4 linked regions of the Homo sapiens genome follow. The protein of the gene in region 4 purifies or fractionates together with the protein of the main gene of each other region. This does not show direct contact. Each region holds a gene or a part of one and is shown on either strand. Other genes may lie near its edges.

What was found.
Region 1: the proteins of CROCC (region 4) and MSN fractionate together in Homo sapiens (co-fractionation; one large-scale study listed by BioGRID). This does not show direct contact.
Region 2: the proteins of CROCC (region 4) and TGFBRAP1 purify together in Homo sapiens (affinity purification with mass spectrometry; one large-scale study listed by BioGRID and IntAct). This does not show direct contact.
Region 3: the proteins of CROCC (region 4) and PEX14 purify together in Homo sapiens (affinity purification with mass spectrometry; one large-scale study listed by BioGRID and IntAct). This does not show direct contact.

What each region holds. Positions count from the first base shown.
Region 1 is NC_000023.11:65,715,235-65,720,918, reverse strand, and holds part of MSN (moesin), read right to left. Parts: intron 4,102-5,684; coding exon 4,018-4,101; intron 1-4,017. UniProt on the Homo sapiens protein: Ezrin-radixin-moesin (ERM) family protein that connects the actin cytoskeleton to the plasma membrane and thereby regulates the structure and function of specific domains of the cell cortex.
Region 2 is NC_000002.12:105,308,904-105,314,587, reverse strand, and holds part of TGFBRAP1 (transforming growth factor-beta receptor-associated protein 1), read left to right. Parts: intron 1-5,684. UniProt on the Homo sapiens protein: Plays a role in the TGF-beta/activin signaling pathway. It associates with inactive heteromeric TGF-beta and activin receptor complexes, mainly through the type II receptor, and is released upon activation of signaling.
Region 3 is NC_000001.11:10,620,463-10,626,146, reverse strand, and holds part of PEX14 (peroxisomal membrane protein PEX14), read right to left. Parts: intron 3,129-5,684; coding exon 3,026-3,128; intron 1,808-3,025; coding exon 1,710-1,807; intron 1-1,709. UniProt on the Homo sapiens protein: Component of the PEX13-PEX14 docking complex, a translocon channel that specifically mediates the import of peroxisomal cargo proteins bound to PEX5 receptor.
Region 4 is NC_000001.11:16,927,176-16,932,859, reverse strand, and holds part of CROCC (rootletin), read right to left. Parts: intron 3,015-5,684; coding exon 2,829-3,014; intron 2,737-2,828; coding exon 2,653-2,736; intron 2,575-2,652; coding exon 2,513-2,574; intron 2,432-2,512; coding exon 2,266-2,431; intron 1,570-2,265; coding exon 1,463-1,569; intron 1-1,462. UniProt on the Homo sapiens protein: Major structural component of the ciliary rootlet, a cytoskeletal-like structure in ciliated cells which originates from the basal body at the proximal end of a cilium and extends proximally toward the cell nucleus.

The sequences.
Region 1 (5,684 bases), on a different chromosome or scaffold from region 4:
CTCTAGCTGTAGCACACTCACAAGAAGAGAGGTAAATGAGACAAACTATGAGTCCTACTTCCCTTTCCCACCAGGCCCTAGACTTCCTCAAGCTATGGCATCCCATTGTTGCCTATTATTTATTGCTGGTGCCAAGGAGTACTTCCTCTCTGGTTGGCTTCCTCTCTGGTCATTGGCCAGATGACTGCTGCGTTCCAGGATGGCCATAAAGCTTTTGCCAATTCCTGCCAAGGAGTCTAGCTCCTTCCTCCCAGGCCCAGGCTCTACCAGGAGGGCCTCCTTGAATGATGGGTCCCAAGAGCCAGACAGAACGGACTTCCTCCCTTATGCCTCATCAAGTTAGAGAGAGAAGAGCTCACATCCCCCAAATGCCTATGAACACATAACTCTACTGATTCCTGACCTGACCTGCCTTGGCCTCAAGAGGGCCAAATGCTCAATTCCTTGAGTTCAAATCTTTTTCCCTGTATTTTCTCACCTGTGGGGTCCACCTCTGTCCCTCTGACTCACAGAATGTGACTGCCCCCCTCCTTCTTATGATAGTCCTTCAGAGGTCTGAAGACAGAAAGCATATCTTCCTTGAGTCTTCTCTAAGTTGAATACTCCCAATCACCCCAAACAGAGTAGTGCAGTGCAGGAAAAGTATAGTTTTGTGATCAGAGTTGTATTCAAAATTCCATATCACAACTTACTAACTACATGACCTAGAGTATGTTCTTTCACCTCACAGAGGCAGGAGCATTGTGAGGATTAAAGCGCCTAGCCAGGAATAGGCCATAGTATGTGCTCAATAAATGATACTTCTCAAGATAACAATGATGAGAAGTCATGGACTTCTTGGTTTCCAAGTCTCCCAAAGGCTTTGTTTTGGAAGCAGTAGCATTCAGAACTAGCATACCAATCTGCCCAGGGTTCCCTACTATCTGGGGTTCCCTACTATCTGGACTTCCCTCAAATCCACACCCACAGCACACAAACCAAACCAACACTAACAAAAAACTACCAGGCATTGAGGTTTTTTGAAGTTAATAAACCTCTTTGTTCAAGAATTTTTCTGCCCCCACTAGGCTCCAAATCATGCCTTCCTCATCCTCCACAGCCATCCCCCTGCAATGCACATATACAAAGCCCCCAGTGTTGAGGGTAGAGGATGGCGTCATCTGGTTTGGGATGGGGAATTAGTAGAATCAGGGCTCTTGGAAGGAGTATAGGTAAATGTCAAAGGAGCCTCTGGCTCCCAGCTGGTCTGTAAAATCTGCACTGACTAACCGCTTCCCTCTCTAATAGCTGCTACCCAGAATGATACTGCTGTCTAAAGCAAAGGGCCCAAAAGCCTATGTGTTCTATGGACACTTCCTCCCTTTTGTCTTAGAGACAGTAAAAAGCCTGTCAAGGAAGAGATGATCCCCCTGCCAGCTAGCCCTACCTCCTCACATATGCCAGCAGCTGATCATACTCAGGTGAGGCATTTCTCTCCTTTTTACAGAAAAGGATTGTCTGAAATCCCAATACTAGGAACAGAAATGGGAGAGAAAGAGAGATGGAATGCACAAATAAATGCCAGAGATAAATTTTCTGAGAGATAACCAGATTTGAGAAACAAGTTAGGCATTGTACAGATGAGAAACTGAGGCCCAAATAAGGGAAACGTTTGTATCACAGCGAATTAGTGATAGAGCCAACCCTACAGCCCAAGATTCATGACTTTCTATCCAGGCCCTTTTGACTTCACTAGGCTGTCCCTTTAAAAGTTCTCCAATATAACCTCCATGTGAAGAGAGAATGCAAAGCACAATTATAATTAGAATGCATTTAGTCATTCCAGACTAGCACCATAATCACTTGTGAGCTATGTGAATGTAAGCACATCACTTTAATTGTAGTAAACTTGTATTTAAATATTCCTCAGACTAATTTGTATTTTCACCAATTAAGTATCAATGATTACACTTTGCCATTCAAAGTAAAACAAACACAAAACAAACTCCAGAGAAGTAAGTTCCACCTAAATCTGAAGTTAGATATTCTGAGGATCATTAAGCCCATCTCCCAATTCTCCCAATTCTAGATTATTTTTCTTTACTTTTTTTTTTTTTTTTTAGAGACAGAGTCTTGCTCTGTCACCTAGGCTGGAGTACAGTGGCGTGATCATAGCTCACTGTAACCTTGAACTCCTGGGCTTGAGCAACCCTCCTGGCACAATCTCCTGAGTAGCTGGGACTATAGGTGTGCACCACCATGCCATGCTAATTTTTAAATTTTTTGTAGAGACAGGGTCTCGCTGTGTTACCCAGGCTGGTCTCGAGCCCCTGGGCTCAAGCAATCCTCCCATCTCAGTGTTAGGATTACAGACATGAGCCACCACATCACGTCAACTCCAGCTCAATTAATAATACAAGAAGCACAATGGTATTGGAAAGGGAGCTATCATTTATTACTTCTCTACCATATGCTGGATGCTTTCTTCCAGCTAACACTTTCTTTCCTATTTGTGTTTTCTTATCTTTCTCACCTATTTCGAATTTATCTTTTTGGATTGGACATCCTTATATGCCACTATAATCAGATTTTTGAGTAACAGGTAAGATACAAAACATAACACACTCACAAAAATCCTGTGAGGTAAGTATTAGATATTTCTCGGGGGGAGGGGATGAAGATACCAACCCAGAGAGTTCAATAATTTTCCCAGGGTCTAACTAGGAAAATGAGGATTTTGTGTCCTCATCTGTAAAACATGCCCATACTAATTCATGCACTCACAGAGCTTTGTGATAGTCAAATGCTTATCATAATACTTAGCATACACTGAGTCCTGGATAAATGTTAACTCTCATCTGTATTAGCCACAGACAATAATTTTCCCACTCTATGTAATAAGAACTCAGAAGGTGTACCCAAGCTGTCCTCAAATTTCTAGCCCTCTCCTACCCCTGTCTCCATTCTACTCTTGTCTTTTCTCTCACCAGTCAGAAGTATTCACAGGAATAGAATTAGCTTATTTGAACACTACCTCCTTCTTTTTTTCTTCCTCTCTCCAACCCTGGGGAAGTTCTCATATGGTAGAAGGACACAGAGAGCAAGGAAGAAAGGGAAGCAAGAGGGCCTGGAGAATCCATCAGGGTGATATGCAGCCTAACATCCTGGACAATAACTCAGACCTCCACTTCATCGGAGTCTGGTGGAGAAATAGGATAATGGCCTGTCTGGTGAGGTCCCAGCCTCTGGAAATGGGAGCCTCATTTTTGCTCCTAGAAGTCTGGCCACAGACGGCACATTCCCTTGAATGCTAAAAATGTCTGTAGCTGCCATCTGTTTATTATAGTATACAGTACATCCTTTCTGACAATAATGATTCACAATGAAGGGACACCCCTTGGGTTGGAGATGGGAATGACCTCTTCACTATGGCGAGTAAGCAATTATCTTCATGGCATGCCTGTAGGAGATGAAGCAGCCTCCTACTGCATCCATCAACTCCCATGTTGTCCTAAGTCCCAACATTCTTTTGAGAGAAATGTGCATAGAGCTTACTACCTCAGGGAGAGTAAGTTAGTTTCCTTCTACTAGGAAGCAAAAACATGGGACAGAGGCAGTGTGGTGCAGTGGCAACAATGTGGAGTGCAAATCCCAGCCAAATATCATTTGGGTGCAATTAAGTTATTTAACTTCTGAGCCTCATCATTAAAATGGAGAAGACATCACTTACATGTTTCAGAGTTAAAAGGAAGGCTCCATATGCTAAGATTTTTAAAGCATCTAGCATAGAATATACACCATTTTCTTTTCTCCCTTATTCAGGACCAAAGATAAAATTAATCAGGACCATAGGGTGCAGGCTGCCAAAGTTTAACTTTGCCTCCTTTCATATTAAGTCTGGAATCAGCCTTCATTTTGATCTATCTTGGAGTGAACAGGAAGAGAGATTCTTTGACAAGAGGCAAAAGTCATGGATTGTTGGCATTGTGGTGGAAGCTATTCAGAGAAGGAGAGGAGGCTAAGGAGTCTCCGCCTTACCTGGTCAAATAGCTGCTTCCCGGTGGTGTTGGGCTGGATGGCAAACTCCAGCTCTGCATCCATGGTGGTCACACGCACACTGATCTAGGATGAGATCAAAGGAAGCAGGTTAGTCATCTGGCTCTGTGTTCAACAGAGCCTGAGACAAGTGTCTCTGCTCAACCACAGAGGAAGGAGTTAGGATGCTAAGAGCCTGGGCAACTTAGATACTGATGGGGATGAAGGGAGAATATTGACCCAAACACAACCCCTGCTCCCAAGCAGCTTATTGAAGACAAACAACACAGCCACAGAGCAATACTTACCAAAGAACAGACAAGCATGAAGGCCGGGTGCAATGCCTCATGCCTGTAATCCCAGCACTTTGGGAGGCCGAGGTGGGTGGATTGCTTGAGGCCAGGAGTTCGAGACCAGCCTGGGTAACATGGCAAAACCCCATCTCTACTAAAAATACAAAAATTATCCGGGCATGGTGGTGCACACCTGTAGTTCAAGCTACTTGGGAGGCTGGGGTATGAGAATCACTGGAACCCAGAAGGTAGAGGTTGCAGTGAGCCGAGATCACACCACTGCACTCCAACCTGGGCAACAGAGCGAGACTTTGTCTCAAAAAAATTTTTAAAAAAGAATGCAGATCAGCCTACAACTAAGAGCAGGCAAATGATAACTGTACTTCTTCCAGGAAGGCCTTTCCATCTATACTAGACAGCTTCATCTCACAGGGTTCTCTTCTCACCTCTGATCTACCTGGATTATCTATAGCACTGGTAAACAATTGCAGAGGCAAATTAATATCAGGACAAAGAGCACTGGGTTCCACATGATAATCTAAAGGGCAGAAAAAGCTTTCAATAAAATCTAACACCCCTTCATGTTAAAAGTTCTCAATAAACTAGGTATTGAAGGAGCATACCTCAAAATAATAAGAGCCATCTGATAAAGCCACAACCAACATCATACTGAATGCGCCAAAGCTGGAAGCATTCCCTTTTAAAACCGACACAAGACAAGAATGCCCTCTCTCACCACTCATATTCAACATAGTATTAGAAGTCCTGGCCAGAGCAATCAGACCAGAGAAAGAAATAGAGGGCAACCAAGCAAGAGGAGAGGAAGTCAAACTATCCTTGTTTGCAGATGACATGATCCTATATCTAGAAAATCCAATAGTCTCGGCCCAAAAGCTCCTTAATCTGATAAATAACTTCAGCAAAGTCTCAGTGTACAAAAATCAACATACAAAAGTCACTAGCATTCGTATACACCAACAACAGTCAAGCCAAGAGCCAAATCAGGAAGGCAATCCCATTCAGAACTGCCACAAAAGAATAAATATCTAGGAATACTGTTAACTAGGGAAGCGAAAGATCTCTACAAGAAGAACTACAAATCACTGCTCAAAGAAATCAGATATGACACAAACAAATGGAGAAACAGTCCATGCTCATGAATAGGAAGAATCAATATTGTTAAAATGGTGATACTGCCCAAAGCAATTCATAGAATAGACTCAATGCTATTCCTATCAAACTACCAATGACATTCTTCACAGAACTAGGAAAAACTATTTTAAAATTCATATGGAAACAAAAAAACAGCCTGAATAACCATGGCAATCCTAAGCAAAAAGAACAAAGCTGGAGGCATCATGCTACCCAACTTCAAAT
Region 2 (5,684 bases), on a different chromosome or scaffold from region 4:
ATTACTTTCTAGGGCTGCCGTAAGAAAGTACTACAGGTGGCTGGGCGCGGTGGCTCACGCCTGTAATCCCAGCACTTTGGGAGGCTGAGACAGGTGGATCATGAGGTCAGGAGATCGAGACCATCCTGGCTAACACGGTGAAACCCTGTCTCTACTAAAAATACAAAAAATTAGCCAGGCGTGGTGGCAGGCGCCTGTAGTCCCAGCTACTCGGGAGGCTGAGGCAGGAGAATGGCGTGAACCCGGGAGGTGGAGCTTGCAGTGAGCCGAGATCACAACACTGCACTCCAGCCTGGGCGACAGAGCGAGACTGTCTCAAAAAAAAAAAAAAAAAAAAAGAGAAAGTACTACAGGCTGGGTACCTTAAACAACAGAAATATTACTTCAGAGTTTTGGAGGGTAGAAATCTGAGAGCAAGGTCTGGTAACTTCAGACATTCCTTAGCTTATAGATCTCCTTCCTCTTTCTGTGTCTTCACTTGTCTTTTCTCTGTATGTATCTGTCTCTGTGTACAAATTTCCCCTTTTTATAAGGACACAGTCATATTTGATTAGAGCTCACCCTAAATGACTCTGATCATCTTATTTCCACATAAGGTCCCATTCATGGGTACTGGGGGTTAGGACTTCAGCATGATTGGGGGAGAGTCATTTCAACCCATAACAGATGGCAGATTCTTGTCTTGTTCCTTGTTTCAAAAGGAAAGATTTTAAAATTTAATTTAATTTAATTTAATTTATTAATTTATTTTATTTAATGCTTTTTCTGAATCTTTTGAAATAGTTTTTTCTTTTAATTTATAAATGTGGTGAGCTAAACAGATTTTATTTCCTTAAACCAATACTGCATCCCAACTTAGCCATATTGCATTTTTAATATATATTTGTGGATTTCGTGTGCTAATATTTAGTGTTTTTGCAGGTTTATTTGTGAGTAAGAATGATCTGTGATTTTTCTTTTTTCCTGTATCCTTATCTGGCTTGAATATCAAAGTTTTACTTTCTACTACTTTCATAAAATAAAGTAAGGATATGTTCCCTCTTTTATTTATCTTTTTATCCTTAGAAACATTTATTATGTGAAATTGGAATTAGGTGGTTCCTAAGTGTTTAGTGGAACTCGCTAGGAAATCCATCTGGACCCAGTGCTTGCTTTGTAGGATAGACAGTGTCTATTAAATCAGAATGTAGCCAGTGCTCTGTGCTGCCCATAAACTCATCCCAGTCAGCTCTCCTGGCCTTGGCCTTGTGCTGTGAAAAGAAGTGGGACCTCTAGAAGCCTACATAGCTTTTGTAACAGGTCTCCAAGTAAAGAACACAGAAACTTCCTTTGAAACTTATGGGTAATATAAAATCTGTGGCGCCCACCCCATGTGTAGCCGGAAAGAACAGAATTGTCATTTTTGAACTGAGGTTTAGGAAACTTCCTAAGGAGTAAGGGAAGATGCCAAAAGTCATCAGTTCTCTTTTTTTTTTGAGACAGAGTTTCACTCTTGTTGCCCAGGCTGGAGTGCAGTGGCGCGATCTCTGCTCACTGCAACCTCCGCTTCCCGGGTTCAAGTGATTCTCCTGCCTCAGCCTCTCAAGTAGCTGGAATTACAGGCATGTGCCATCACGCCTGGCTAATTTTTGTATTTTTAGTAGAAGCAAGGTTTCACCATGTTGGCCAGGCTGGTCTCGAACTCCTGACCTCAGGTGGTCCACCTGCCTCGGCCTCCCAAAGTGCTGGGATTACAGGTGTAAGCCACCATGCCCGGCCAAAAGTCATCAGTTCTTTTAAAGTGATGCCAGATACTGACTAAAAGATAATGTTTCTGTGTACATTTGTAGAAAAAGATTTGTATTTTTACATTAGCATCTTTAAAGATGCTGACTAAGATTCTGACTATCACCAGTGGCAGAATCTTTAAAATGACAATGTGCATATTCTTAACCTGGTAGGAAATAATTACTAATATTTTTATTTTGACCCTTAGCATGTATTGCTTTATACTATTACTGATTTATTTTTCTAGTCCTATTTCCTTAATAGGACGGGGAGACTCTTAGGAAGTGGGATTGTGTCTTGTAATTGTTTAGTTTTTTGCAAACTTAGAGGTGCTTGCTGCATATGCAAGGTTAGCTTAATTAAATTATGGTCCTTGAGCATCCTAGCATTTTCCAATCTCTTCCCTACCTGGGTATGTATTTTGAAATTTTAAGAAAACATTAAAATGTTGATCTTTTAAATTATTATAATCATACTTTTAAAGTGAATTTTTTAAATTTAATATTCTTATTTTTTTTAAAAATAGAGACCAAGTCTCAATATTTTGCCCAGGCTGGTCTTGAACTCTTGGGCACAAGTGATCTTCCTGCCTGGGCCTCTCAAAGTGTTAGGATTATAGGTAAGCCTTAAAGTGAAGTTCTAACAAAAAGTTTAAATTTTCGATCATTTTGAGATCACACAGTAAAGTATGAATTTTACACCTTAGAGAAACGTTTCCTTTTGAAACATTACCATGTTGAAACTTCTCTGATTCAGAACCCCAGCAAGTTATATTTAATAGAGGTGTGGCCTAAAGTTTATCTTTTTATGATTCATATTTTATCTAAGTAAATATATCATGTGAATTAGATCATGGAGAGAATTTTCCCACTGCTTAAAAAAAATAGTTTTTTAAATTAATTTTTTTTTTTTGAGATGGAGTTTTGCTCCTGTCACCCAGGCTGGAGTGCAGTGGTACGATCTCGGCTCACTGCACCCTCTGCCTCCCAGTTCAAGCGATTCTCCTGCCTCAGCCTCCTGAATAGCTGGAATTACAGGTGCCCGCCACCATGCCTGGCTAACTTTTTTTTGTGTGTGTATTTTTAGTAGAGACGGGGTTTTGCCATGTTGGGCAGGCTGGTCTTGAACTCCTGACCTCAGGTGATCCGCCTGCCTCAGCCTCCCAAAATGGTGGGATTACAGGTGTGAGCCACCACTCCTAGCCAATTTTTTTTTCTTTTTTCTTTTTTTTTCTGTGTGAAAGCATCTCACACTGTTTCCCAGGCTGGAGAGCGGTGGTGCAATCATGGCTCACTGAAGCCGCAAACCACTGGGCTCAAGCAACCCTCCTACCTCAGCCTCCTGAGGAGGAGGGAATACAGGTGTGCCCCACCAGGTCTGGCTAAGTTTTTATATTTTTTTTGTAGAGACAGGGTTAAGGATAAGTCATTTTTAAGTGCTAGCATGTTACTTCTTCAGCTTTCATTTACCTCCATGTAATTCTGCATTATTACCATTTAATTACCAAAGCAAGTCCTTAATTTAAAGGCCTATAATAGGAAGCTTATCTTTAGCAAGGCTTGAATAACAGTTTACTAGATAATGAAACAATATTGCATTTGTTTTTAAATATTATAGAGTTATGACTTTTTAGTAAACCATATGTTTTTTTGTTTTTTGTTTTTTTTTTTTTTTTACAGCTCTCTCTCCCTCTCCCCTTCTCTATCTACCCCAGGATTTAGACTAAATATGAGGCGTTTGATTCTTTCTATAATATTCTTTACTGCAAATGTGTTTAGTTTATCCCTTATGCTAACTGAAGACAGGGGCTGGAATTATGAATATTATACTTTTAAGAAGCTAAATAAAAGGAGTTTGATTGTAGGTGCCCAGAGTTTGTTTCTCTATTCCTTCCGCAAAGGGAGACACAATTTATATTTTAAATGGCAGAACTGCTTACTCCTGCCATTTAAAAAAGACAACCCTGATTGATTAATCAATGAAGGAAGAAGTATTTTGTATTACTTCACTTTCACTAACTTAGATGTCTGGAAGCTGACATTTCAATATCTGGGTTTTACTCATTAGCTCTTAAATGGAGAAAAAAATGTTGTCTAGGTGGGTTTTGGTGGTTATGTTTGGTTGGGACAAATACATGATGTTGTTTAAGAGCTGTTTGTGCCAGAGACTATTTGTAGAAGCCTGCAAGAGTTCTGCACTCGGCCTCACCTGGGATTCTGGGGATGTTCCCACAGCCCCGAGGTAGATGGACATGATTCCTTCTCTGTGGTGCCTTTAGAACCTCCCTCTACACTTCCCCCAGCTCTTTTCCATAGTTTCTGTGAAGATGAGCTCCCGTAGGTGAGTGTGAAGATGTCTTAGGGGTGGGGCAGGTGTGTGAGTGTGTGTTCTGGCTTATGATGCAGGCTGTGTTTTGGCGGAGGTGAACAGGTTACCCATATCTGAGGACAGAAGACAGCATAGTCTAATCTCTTGGTGCCCAGCTTGGGAAATAAACACCTGAAGCAAGCTGGTAGTTTGAGAGAGGAGTGAGAGCTGATCCAGACTGGGAGGGAATCATAGTATTTATGATGAGATCCAAAAGTTTGAGTGCTGTGTGCCAGCTGTCCGCATTTTATATGAGGTCACTTACTTAATCGTCCAACAATCCTATGAAGTAGGTACCGTTATTCTCATTTCACAGATGAGGCAGTTGAGGCTGGAATAGCCAAGTGTCCATTCCAGCTGCTGTAACAAACTACCATACACTAGGTAATTAATAGATAATAGAAATGTATTGCTTACCGTTCATGGAGGCTGGGAAGTCCAAGATTAAGGCATGGTAGGCTCAGTGTTTGGTGAGGGCCCATCCCTCAGGGGTGGTGCCTTGCAGCTGCCTCCTCACATAGTGGATGGAAGGAACAAATAAGCTCTCTGGGGCCTCTTTAATAAGGGCACTAATGCCATTCATAAGGGCTCCACCCTCATGACCTAATCACCTCCCCACCTCCCAACACTACCACTCTGGGGATTAAGTTCCAACATATGAATTTTAGGGGGACACAGACATTCTGACCATAGCACCAAGTAATTTGCTCAAGTGATGGGAAGAAAACAGGAAGGACTGATGTGTCTACAGACAAGCCTCCTCCTCAACCCTGGGGTATCCTCCCTCCTGGGGGTTTTGTAGAGCTAAGGAAGGGGGCTGGAGTCTCACTTGTGTGTAGCTGTCATTGCCCCCATGGATGGGGGCAGACACAAAATTGTAGAATTCCAAATTTTCTATTTGAAAGGCACCAAAGAAGTTCTCTGATTCCTTCCCTTCCCTGATGCGTGAACCTTTCTTGAATATTTCTGAGAGGTCTTCCCTGCTTTGCTGGAATGCCTCCAAGTATTAGGAACTTAAGCTCTCATGAAGCAGCACTGTTCCATGTTCAGACAACTTGAGATGAGGAAGTGACAGTGATAGCAGCCTTTCACTTCAAGCTCTCTGAACATGCAGCAGTGCTGACGCAAGCCCAGCCAGCTGCCCTGCAGCTCCCGTCATTCTCTGCAGTCCTCTTTCCAGCTCTCTGATCCCCTGCCCTGCTCCCGCTCACAGGGACTGTGCCTTTGAGTTTGCTTCTGGCTGCCTGAGAAGTCAGAAAGGCCACCTTGCCTGATCTTCTCCCTGTGACTTTGTGGAGTGTGAAGCCACAGTTCTCTGCAGAAGATGAAGTAGGAGGCGACGGGCTAGTGTGTGGGAAAGTCTCACTTCCAATGGGAGCCAGGGACCGGTCGGTCCACACATCCACTAAATAGCTCCACTCACCATCTGAAAGCCTTTCGAGATCCGAGGCACACCTTTACTCTCCACATGAATACATTTACTCCGGAGCTGAGGCTGATGCGCCTGCCTTATTGGGAAGAACACAAAGGAATCCAAGGCCTGGCGTCTG
Region 3 (5,684 bases), 6.3 Mb from region 4:
AAACAGTTGTAGAAAACTCATAGCCTTCAGTTTTATGTAGGTTTTTTAATTACTTAAAGCTCTTCTTTTTAATTTTTTACAGTGCTCCAGTAGGAGTTTGGAAGCCAGATATAAAAACTTACATTACAGCTGAGAAAACACAGCTCTGGGTCTTTGGTTTATGGGGTAACCAAAGTCCTCACACATACGCGTTTAGATGCCAAGCCAGTGGCCCCATGCAGCTCGGGAGAGAAGGCTGGGGTGGGCCAGGGACAGCGGCAGCAAAGCCAGCTCGAGGGACTCTGAGGGGCCCAACCCCTCTCACCACCAAGCACATCCCGGGCCCCCACTGCTTCTTAAACACAACATGTGGTCTTAATCTCAGGCGTAAGGCCTGAAAACAGTTTTCCAATTTCCGGAATGGCTTCTGGCCACAGGCAGAGCATGGATCCAAAAGATGACCTGACCCAGGAGAGCAGGCAGGGCTGTCGCTGGGCTTCCTGGTGCTTTAGGGACCGGCCACCCGTGGAGAACACGCATTGCAGTGGCTGGAGGTGGTCACCAGTACCCACAGCCATCCCAGGAGGAAGAGCAGGTGGCACCTCTGTGTGTGGTTTGGATATCCAGGGGGGAGATTCCTGGGACCCTCTTCACAAGAGACACCCCAGACTCCATGGAAAGATTGTCATTTTCATGGTTTTTGCAAATGCAAAAGATCTGAGTGCTGGCTCAAGCCAACTCGTACGCTAGGAGTGGCTTTCCCTGGGTAAGCAACTCGGGATGGGACTCTCCAGAGCCCAGGCTGTGGGGGCAGACAGGGAGCAGTGTCCGCCGGCCACAGAGCTGTGGGACAAGGGACAGAGAGAGGAGCCAGTGGGTGTTCTGGAGCTACCAGGCCACTGTCTCCTGGGCCCGGTCTGTCTGATACCGCCTCAGGGATGACCTCTGTTACCCACCCACAGAACCTAGGCCTGCAATCCTGCGAGCTGGCTGGAGCCAGGCACCCTCTTGAACCCATGAAGAGCCCCAGGAATTAGGTGCCGTTATGGCTCCATTTTACAGATGAGGAGACTAAGACTCAGAGAGGTTAAGTAACTTGCCTGTGGTCATACAGCTAACAAGTGGCAGGACCAGGATTCAGCCTGATCCTGGAAGCTGCCACGCCAAGATTTCTTCACATTTGGGCAGTGAGGCAAGGACACTGCCTTGGGAGTTGGTTCTGGCTCCCTAGGATTGCCAGAACCCATGGAACCTGAGTCTAGAGAACCTGCCCGCTGCACTGCGGTGTGGATGGGGCTGGTGCTGGTGAACTGACTGCGACTCGCTTCTCCCCTGTCTGTTCCAGAACCCCTCCTGGCCATGCTGTGACCTGCAACCTAACTTATAGGTAGAGACCGTCCCATGTCTACACAGAAAGCCTCCAGAGCTGCGGGGATGTGGCTGCCATGAGATCTCCACAGGCAGAGGGTAGCTTTTCCTTCCTCCTGTTGGGAGGTGACATAGAGAGAGAAAGGATGGCCTCGACAGTTAAACGTCACACTGACTGCCCAGCAACAGCCTCCTGTCTCTACAAGGAGAGAAAGGGCAGCATCGGCCACGGCTGTGTAACCACTGTGAGACTGGGGCAAAGTCCAGCTCCCGAAGGTGGCAAGCCCGGCCCAAGGGACAAGAGTGAAGGGCACATGGGACAGACCTGGGCCTGGAGGGCCCTGTGCAGCAGAGACAGGTACCTTGGCAGCGGCCAGCTCGTGGGCAAGCTCCTGGATCTTCTGCTGCTGCTGAATCAGCAGCTCCTGGACGGAGGCGAGGGTCGTCTGTAACTGAGTCACTGCGAGGAGAAAGCAGTCACGGCGCTGGCAAATTCACAGGCACAGACGTTCCCCTCGCTCGGTCCGCACACCTCGGAGCTGCCCGTGTTCCCGCTCCATCTAATTTATCTGCAGACACCCCCAGCCCCCGCAATCCATCTAATTTATCTGCACTCTGGGTGATCTGCCTGCACTGTATCTAACCTCTAGTATTTCTACTTTATCTTTCCATTGTGTAGTTGTCCATGGTCAACAGTATATCCGTCCAGAACCTCTCCCCTCTAATTAGAGCTGGCTATGATTTGCTGAGCTCTCCCGGCTTCTCTGGCGCCTGCGTCCTTCATCTCCTGGGCCTCAGTGTCCTTGTGAAACTCCTGGGGTCTCCAATGCTGGGAGAGATGCATCTCAGGTCCCCGCCACATTCACATCCAGGAGTGGCTCAAGCCGCACGTCCTGTTTCCCACTGCTCCTTCCCACCCTCCCCACCTGACCCAAGCTGCCTGCTCAACTCCCTGGTGTCCCGTGACCCCTCAGGACCTTGTTGCCACCAATGTCAGCCTCGCAGGAGCAAACGGCAGCAGGATGGACGTGTCAGAGGGTTTCTGTGAGCTTCACAAACGTGCTCCAGAGGGACACAGACTCCTGCCTGGGACAGGTGGCTCTCTCATTGGCCTTGCTCTGGTTTTTAGATTCAGAGCTGCCGTCTAGTAAACAAGTTTATAAAGAAGAGAAGCCACCTCTGGCGCGACAGGTCCCAGCTAATCTGGGCCATCGCTGGGGCACTGGGTAATGAACGCGAGCCCTGTTGAGTCGATAACAGGGGAGGTGGCTGGGGTCCCGGGAGCCACAGTAATTACAGACTCTCTTGACCCCACAGTCGAGTCTTAGAGGGAAGGGGGAAAATCACTGAAAACCCCCCTGAAAACCTCATAGAAGCAGAAATTAAAAATGAACTTTACAGCCCTTAGAAAGGCTGTCATTTTATTCCCCTTATTAATATTCTGAGGTTGGGAGCCTTTCCGTAAAAACATAATTAATTGAGGCCGCGCCGACAGTAAACAAGCAATTTCAAATTAAACCGAAATGACGGCGGCTTCATTTGCAAATGTGAACAGATTCTCAGAGCAGATAAATGAAGTCACCACATAGAGTGGAGACAGAGGGAGAGGGGAGGGGCAGAGAAGGGGCTGCTTGGAGAAGGCTGTGAGGGGTGACTTGATGGAGTCATTAATCTTTACCTGTCTGGGCCACGCTGCCACTCAGCTCAGAGAGACCGGCCTCCATCCTCTCCAGCTGCTTTCTGTCCTCTCGGCCGCCCAGGATGAGGGGGAGCAGGTATTTCTGCAAGAAGCGGGACAGGGTGAGGAATGCATACGGACCCGGGGTTATCCTCCAACAATCTCTCAAATTCTGCCGCCCAACTTTCTCCCTGTCATCCCTGGGTTTTGGAAACCCTAAGCAAACACCATAAATGAACAAGATATTTGAAAAAGTTATGAGACTGCGATTACAACCACGTAAAAATTCTGCCTGAATAAGGACAAGGACCAGGAGGGAACGTGGACAGGGAGAGTCAGCTGGATCTGCTGTGATGGGAACTTTTTGGTTCCTTTATTTACTTTTCTTAGTGATGCTACACTATTTCTGTAACACAAAGTTATAAACTCTACTGTCAAAGTTGTAAGATATAAATGTGGATGGACACACAAGCAACAGATAATGCTGGAGCCTCCAGGAGGCGAGGGAGGCGGGGCAGCTCTTCCCGGCATGTTCTCCTGAATTGTGAACATTTTGAACCTGTGAGTGAATCACCTATTCAGAAACAAACGAGTAAATTAATAAACAAAACATCGCTGGAGAAACTAAAGGAAAATCAACAACACATTTCTGGGACCCTTGGTTCTCTCGCCAGGGGATAACATGTGCGCTCTGAGGCTGCTGGAAGAGGTCACCTCAGTCTTTTTCTAAATGAAGCCTGAATCCTCAGAACAAACTTCCTTCACGTAAGAGTCAAAAGAAGTCGAGTTCCCCAGAAGGAAACACAAGGCAGAAGGGAGAGGAAGGCGCAGGACCAGAAGAAACTGGCTCTGGGGAAAAAGAAAGTGAATGCGGCAGGGCCACCCCTCACAGGGGCCTAGAACCAGGGATGCCCGAAGGAGCCGTTCAGGAAGGGGGCAGGCAGGGCAGGGCTGGCAACTGGTGCTCTTGGTTGCCTTGGAGGTGAGGGTGTGGAGGGGTGGAGGTGGGTGGTGGGGCCTGCAGGGACAGCTGCGTGTAGGAACATGTGCACTGACGTCCAGCCACTCGGGACATGGAGACAAAGCCCCCCAGGTGAGGAGTGAGACCCGCTGCCCCCTTCAGTGGGCACTGCCAGAGGCAGTGCAGTGCAAGCCTGGCAGGAGCTGCCCGGGGATAACTTTGGTTCTTAATCTATCTGGGCCCAGATAGGAAAGAGGACGGAAACTTCTCCATTACGGTTTCTGTACCAGGGAAGGAAAAGAAGCTCTCTCACAAGGGGTTTGTGGGAACTCATTTCCAGAGTGACTCCTAAGTGAAGATCATTCTTCAGCAGCACATGTATAGACGCATTTTCTATTTTGCAAAGTGCTTTTCAACCACAGTGTGAGCTATTACCCACAACTGAGCCAAAACTCATCAAAGGTAGCCTTACACTTCAGGATGAAATGTCCTCAGCAAGAAAGGTAAAGAATTCTTGGCCGGGCGCGGTGGCTCACGCTTGTAATCCCAGCACTTTGGGAGGCTGAGGTGGGCAGATCATGAGGTCAGGCGTTCGAGACCAGCCTGGCCAACACAGTGAAACTCCGTCTCTACTAAAAATATAAAGATTAGCTGAGTGTGGTGGCGCATGCCTGTAATCCCAGCTCCTCGGGAGGCTGTGGCTGGAGAATCGCTTGAACCCGGGAGGCAGAGGCTGCAGTGAGCAGAGATCATGCCACTGCACTCCAGCCCGGGTAACAGAGTTAGACTGTGTCTCAAAAAAAAAAAAAAAAAAAAAAGAATTCATATATGTGTGTGTAACCAACTAAACACCCCATTTCTGAGATCAGAAGTCCTAAGGGCAGGAGCAGACACGCTGCCCTAGCCAAAGTCTTCACGTGCTTATAAAGCCAGTCGAGGGCTTTTTACCATTTCTTTTTTTTTTTTTTTTTAATTTCGAGAAACTGAGCAGATGCTTTAGAAATTCTCTTGTTACCATTGTGACTGATATTGCAATGTTTCTTTTCTTTTTAAAACAGAGCGGAGAGCCCAGAGCTTCGTAGAAACTACAAGTGGCAGCTCCGTGTGAGTGCCCACGCTAAGGCGGGCTGCCGAGCTGCCCTCCCGCTCCCGTCAGGCCACAGGCCCTCCATGGGTGGCCATGTGACAGTGCCTACTGCTCATTACAGCCAGGGCATTCATCTGAGGACTCTGGCGTTCGTGTCACATTCTTCTTGGTGCTTGTATACAGTCAGTGATTTGAAGGGGGCACCAGTTCAGAGGGAGAAGAACCGGGTCCCAAGAGGTGTTTTTGTTCTGTTCTGTTTATTTATGTATTTATTTGAGACAAAGTCTCGCTCTTTCACCCACGCTGGAGTGCAGTGGCACAATCTCGGCTCACTGCAGGCTCACTGCAACCTATGCCTCCCAGGCTCAAGTGATTCTCCTGCCTCAGCCTCCCAAGTAGCTGGGATTACAGGTGCACGCCATGACACCCAGCTAATTTTTGTATTATCAGTAGAGACAGGGTTTCACCTTGTTGGCCAGGCTGGTCTCAAACTCCTGACCTCAAGTGATCCGCCCACCTCAGCCTCCCAAAGTCCTGGGATTACAGGCATGAGCCACTGCGCCTGGCTTATTTTGTTTTTTAAATTGAGACAGGGTCTCCTTCTGTTGCCG
Region 4 (5,684 bases):
AACTAAAATGTTTTTAACGCACTAAATGAAATACCTTGGCCTCCTGCCTTGGGGCTCTCTCCGCAGCCTCCCTGACACTACTGTTGAGCTGACTGCTCACACGGATCAGGCAGGCCCAAGCTCCCCCGCTGAGGCAGGCTCTCCTTTCCCTGTACCAGCTCTTCATTGCAACCCCCCTGGCTGCCATGGGCTCCCACCTCCATGCCTTTGCTCATGCCTTGCTCCTGCTTGGAGCGCCTGCTGCTCTGCTTCAACCCTACCCATCCCTTGAGGCTCTGTGCAAATTCCATCTCCACAAAGTGGTTTTTCTGACCTCCCCACCCCTCCCATCCTTCTGAGCCTCGAGGACATTCCCTCTGTTCCACGTACATATCACTGACCACTCGCTTCCTCAGTCTAGAATTTTATTTTACTTTTTTTGGATGGAGTTCTGCTCTTGTTGCCCAGGCCGGAGTACAATGGCGAGATCTCGGCTCACCGCAACCTCTGCCTCCCAGGTTCAAGCAATTCTCCTGCCTCAGCCTCCCGAGTAGCTGGGATTACAGGCATGCACCACTATGCCCGGCTAATTTTGTATTTTTAGTAGAGACAGGGTTTCTCCATGTTGAGGCTGGTCTTGAACTCCTAACCTCAGGTGATCCACCCGCCTCGGCCTCCTCAAGTGCTGGGATTACAGGCGTGAGCCACCGTGCCCAGCCTAGAATTTTGGGGATCTACATCTTTTCATCACAAGAGGCTGTGAGGTCCTTGGTAGCAAAGCTGAATATTCTAGTGGATTAAAATCAGGAACTTCGGCCTGGCGCTGTGGCTCATGCCTATAATCCCAGCACTTTGGGAGGCTGAGGCTGGCTGATTGCTTGAGCTCAGGAGTTCGAGACCATCCTGGGCAACATGGTGAAACCCCGTCTCTACTAAAATACAAAAAAAAAAAAAAAATTAGCTGGGTGTGGCGGCATGTGCCTGTTATCCCAGCAACTCAGGAGGCTGAGGCAGGAGAATTGCTTGAACCCAGGAGGTGAAGGTTGCAGTGATCCAAGATCGTGCCACCTCACTCCAGCCTGGTGACAGAGCAAGACTCCGTCTGAGAAAAAAAAAAAATCAGGAACTTCAAACTCTGACTCAGCCACTTATGTACTACTGTGTGACCTCAGGAAGATCACTCAACCTCTCTGCGCCACAATGTCCTCATCTGTAATATGTGAATGAACACAGTTCCTACCTCACAGGGAAGCTATGAATATTAGTTGAAATGAAATATACAATGAGCCTAGCCCAGAGTAAACATCTAATAAATGCTGACTGCCACGACTGTGGTAATGGTTATTACAAGTTGCCTCTGTGTCCTCACCGGCCCTTGTGCACAGTAAGTGCGTTGAGTTGAACTGAAATTCAACTGAGTTCAGTTGGACATAAAGAGCAGGGCTGGCTCTCAGCTGCTGCCCCGTCCCCGGCCAGGCCTCACCTCTCAGTGAACATCTTCACCTCGCTGACCAGCCGCCGGAACCCCACCACCTGCCTCCAGAGGAGGAGCAGGCGACTGTGCTCGTTGCTGAAGTAGGCGTTGAAGGACTGGAGGGAAGACATGCCGAGGGAAGGGTTGGTGTGAGAGCGGGTTTACTCCCTCCCACTGCTTCCCTCATCTCCGACCATCCTGGGAGGCACCGTCGTTCAGGGATTGGGTCTTCCTGTGGGTCTGTGCACAGAGCTGTGTTGCAGCGGCCATGCTCAGCCTCCCAAGCCTCATGGCTCCCTCCTGCACAGGGACCTGGGTTTCAAGTCCTCTTTTGGCTGCAAGAGGCAGCAACGAAGGGCAAAAATGCAAGGGACCTAGCTTTGCATCCCAGCTGCCAGTTGCATGACTGTGGGCAGGTTACTTAAACTCTCTTTATTTATTTACTTATTTGGAGACAGAGTCTTGCTTTGTTGCCCAGGATGGAGTGCAGTGGCACGATCTCTCAGCCTCCCAAAGTGCTGGGATTACAGGCGTGAGCCACTGCGACCGGCCTTAACCTCTCTTTAAAATGAGGAGAATGATAGCACCTACCACATGCAGTTATCATGAGGAATAAAGGTCAACGCACACCGTGCACGTGGTACATGCTACACACTGATAAAGACCAGCTATTGTGATGACGGCTATTTACTTCTGCTAACAGGCTCCCTTGGACAGTGCTCCCTCTCCCTCTCCAGGCTTCTGAGTCCTCCCTCCTCTGCAGTGCCCCTTCCTCTTGGGTCAGGCTGGCCTCCCTGCACCCCCATGCCCACCTCCTCCTCGCGCCTCCACGCCGCCTCCCGGTGCTCCAGCTCCTTGCGGCAGCGTGTCCAGTCATTGGTCACCTTTCGTATGTCCTCACTCAGAGCCTGGTTGGCCGAGCCTGCCTGGTCCAGCTGTTCTCGGAGCATGGCATTCACCTGGGCCAGGCTGGCACTCCTGAATGGGGCACAGGGGATCAGTAGGCGCTCGCGCAGGGGGCCATCCTGCCAGCCCTGGCCCTCCCTGCTGCGCCCTCACCTCTGCTGCTCCTCCTCCAGCCGGATGAGGGCGCTTTCCAGGTCTTGGCTGTGCTCTGTGTCCTGGGTGGGAGAGAGGTTAAAGCATCAGGTTGGGCAGGTGGAGGGCAGGGCCTGCCCCTGCCCCACACTGGCACCCACCCTCAGCCGCTGCTGCTCCAGCTCTCCGGATCTCTCCAGCAGCTGCTGCTCCAGCTCCGAGCACCTCTTCTTGTACTGGAGAATCTGGGGATGGGGAGCTGATGGTGAGCCCCAGGGGTTGGGGCGGGGCAAAGTGAACAGGTGGGAGGACAGGAGCAGGAGTGGGTGGTCCTGACCTTGCCCTGCAGCCGCTGCACAAGCTGGGCCTGCCGCTGCTGGCCCTCCTGGTAGGCCTGCAGCTTGCGCCGGTAGGAGGCCTGCTCCTCCTGCAGCTGCCTCCGCAACTCCACGCTCTGCCGTACCAGCCCCCTGGGCTCCTGCGTCTCCAGCTCCCCAGGCTCCAGCCGCAGAGCCTGCTCCAGCTGCAGGGAAGGGCCCTGGGTGAGAGTCCTGGGCCTCCTGGGAAGGCAGGCTCAGGCTTCTGTAGGGCGTGGCAGGCTGGGCCCAGACCCACAATGCCTTGTAGGCTGATAGCCTGGCGCCCTGGGGAGCAGCACATGTGGGCAAGCCCAGGGGCAGTGCACGTGTGTATGGGGTGATGCAGCCATGCACGGGCACGCAGACGGGGCATGCATGGACACATGCAGGTGAGCCCACAAACCCAAACCACGCAGGCAAAGCTCAAAGGTGCACCTGGGTCAACCTCAGGGGCCTCAGTACACCATGTGCCTCTCCTCCAGAACACTTAGCCCTGTCGTGGTTTCTGTTTATTACATTGATGCCTGTGTCTTCCCACCATGCCCCGACCCCAATGTGAGCTCAGGAAAGCCTGGATTTTTTGTTCCTCATTGTATCTTAGTACTAGAATGGTGGCTGTGGAATGGCATGGCTCACGCTCAGTAAATATTTGTTGCGATAGTGAATTAATGGGATGAGCTCATGGGAATACATTCAAAACAGAGGTGTCAATCTGTCTATGCATATCTGACCTTAAAGATATGCACACACATAACACATACAGGCAACCTCAAACATTCCCGGAGGACACGAAGGAACCCCCTCATATACACAGCATTAAGATTTGTAAGAGGTGCACACAGGTGTTGCCCTATACGGCGCCTGCATATTAATGCCCCCTTCTGGCTGGGTGCAGTGGCTCATGCCTGTGATCCCAGCACTTTTGGAGGTCAAGGCGGGTAGATCACTTGAAGTCAGGGGTTCAAGACCAGCCTGGCTAACGTGATGAAACCCCGTCTCTACTAAAAATACAAAAATTAGCTGGGCGTGGTGTCATGCACCTGTAATCCCAGTTACTCAAGAGGCTGACGCAGGAGAATCACTTGAACCTGGGAGGCGGAGGTTGCAGTGAGCCGAGATCGTGCCACTGCACTCCAGCCTGGGCGACAGAGCAAGACTCCATCTTTATTTATTTATTTTTTATTTTATTTTATTTATTTATTTTTTTGAGACAGAGTCTTGCACTGTCTCCTGGGCTGGAGTGCAATGGCTCGATCTCGGATCACTGCAACCTACACCTCCCGGGTTCAAATGATTCTCCTGCCTCAGTCTCCCAAGTAGCTGGGACTACAGGTGCACGCCACCACACCTGGCTAATTTTTTGTATTTTTAGTAGAGATGGGGTTTCACTATGTTGGCCAGGCTGGTCTCGAACTCCTGACCTCGTAATCCACCCGCCTCGGCCTCCCAAAGTGCTGGGATTACAGGTGTGAGCCACAGCATCCGGCCCAAGACTCCATCTTAAAAAAAAAAAGGTCCCCTCCATCCTCACTGCAGGAAAGCCTCTGTTGCTGCTGCCCTTCCTCCACCCCCAGGAAGCTTCCATCCCGCACATCCTCAGACCCCTGTGGGCTCTGGCTGTCCCTACCAGCCATAGAACCCTCTCAACTCCCTTAAGGCACCTGCTGGCCCCAGGTGGCCCCTCATCTTCCCCAGCTGTTGGGGGAAGGGAGGTGAGGGAGGAGCAGGGCAGTGGGAGAGCACACAGTGGGTCAAGGGCACCTGGCAGCGACAACACCCCAGCCCAGCTTACTCTGATGCTAGCCCTGCACTCACCATCTGCATCCTCAGGACCTGGCCTGCTACAGCCCAGGCAGGGCATTCAAAAGCCCACCCGTGCAGGGCCACGCCAGCCACAGGAAGCCAACAGGAGGGCAGCTGCTCTCACCCACGCTCATCTCGGGTCTTGGGTCCAGGCCAGGTTAGCGGTAGGGAAGGTGCCCTCCAGGCCTGCATTGACCCCATATGCTGAGAGATGTTCTATGAGCCACAGACAAAGCAAGGACATCTCTACCCACCCCACCCCCGGGACACGTGCATGGCAGCCCCACCAATAGGGAGGAGCTAACTGTGACTACTTGGGGGCTTCCCCCTGAGTCTGGAGGAACACAGTCCAAGGCTGTGCAGGGGAGGTGGAAGTAGGGGGTTTCTGCCTGGATGGCGGCTGCAGGCCTGTCAAGCGTCTGTGCCAAGCCCACTGAGGTCAATGGTGAGCGGTGTCCACATCTGTGTGTGGTGGCGGTGGCCTGAGGCAGCCACACAGGCTGTGCACTGATGTTGGTGGCTCTCACTAGGTGCGAGTGGGGTGTATTTTGTCATTTGTCTCCACGCAGGACACTGTGTGTGTAGTGTGTGGGTGCTGAGTTCACGTCGACTGTTTGGTGCATCTGAGCCTTCCCGTGAACGGCTAAGGCGGCATCTGTGGCTGAAGGTCTATGTTGTGGCGCGGGTGTTGGGCCTGGCTGTGTGTATCAGGGTATATGTCTGTGTGTCGGTGAGGCAAGTGTACAACCGCATGTGGGTGGGTCTGGGGGGTGTGCCTGGGCTCCCTGGTATGTGTGATACACACTTTGTGCATCTGGGCATACCTTTGTGGGCCGATTGGTGGCTGTGTTGAACTGTATGCTTTTCCTGTCCGTGTGCACCCATGAGGTGGGAGATAGCGTGCTGTGTCATCTGCATATGGTTGTTATAGGTCCCCGGTGGTGGGGGGACTGTTCTGTGCCTGTGTGGGGTTGTGTGGCATCTGGCTGTGTGTGCGGCTAACACTGTGCATATTCTGTGAATTGGAGTGT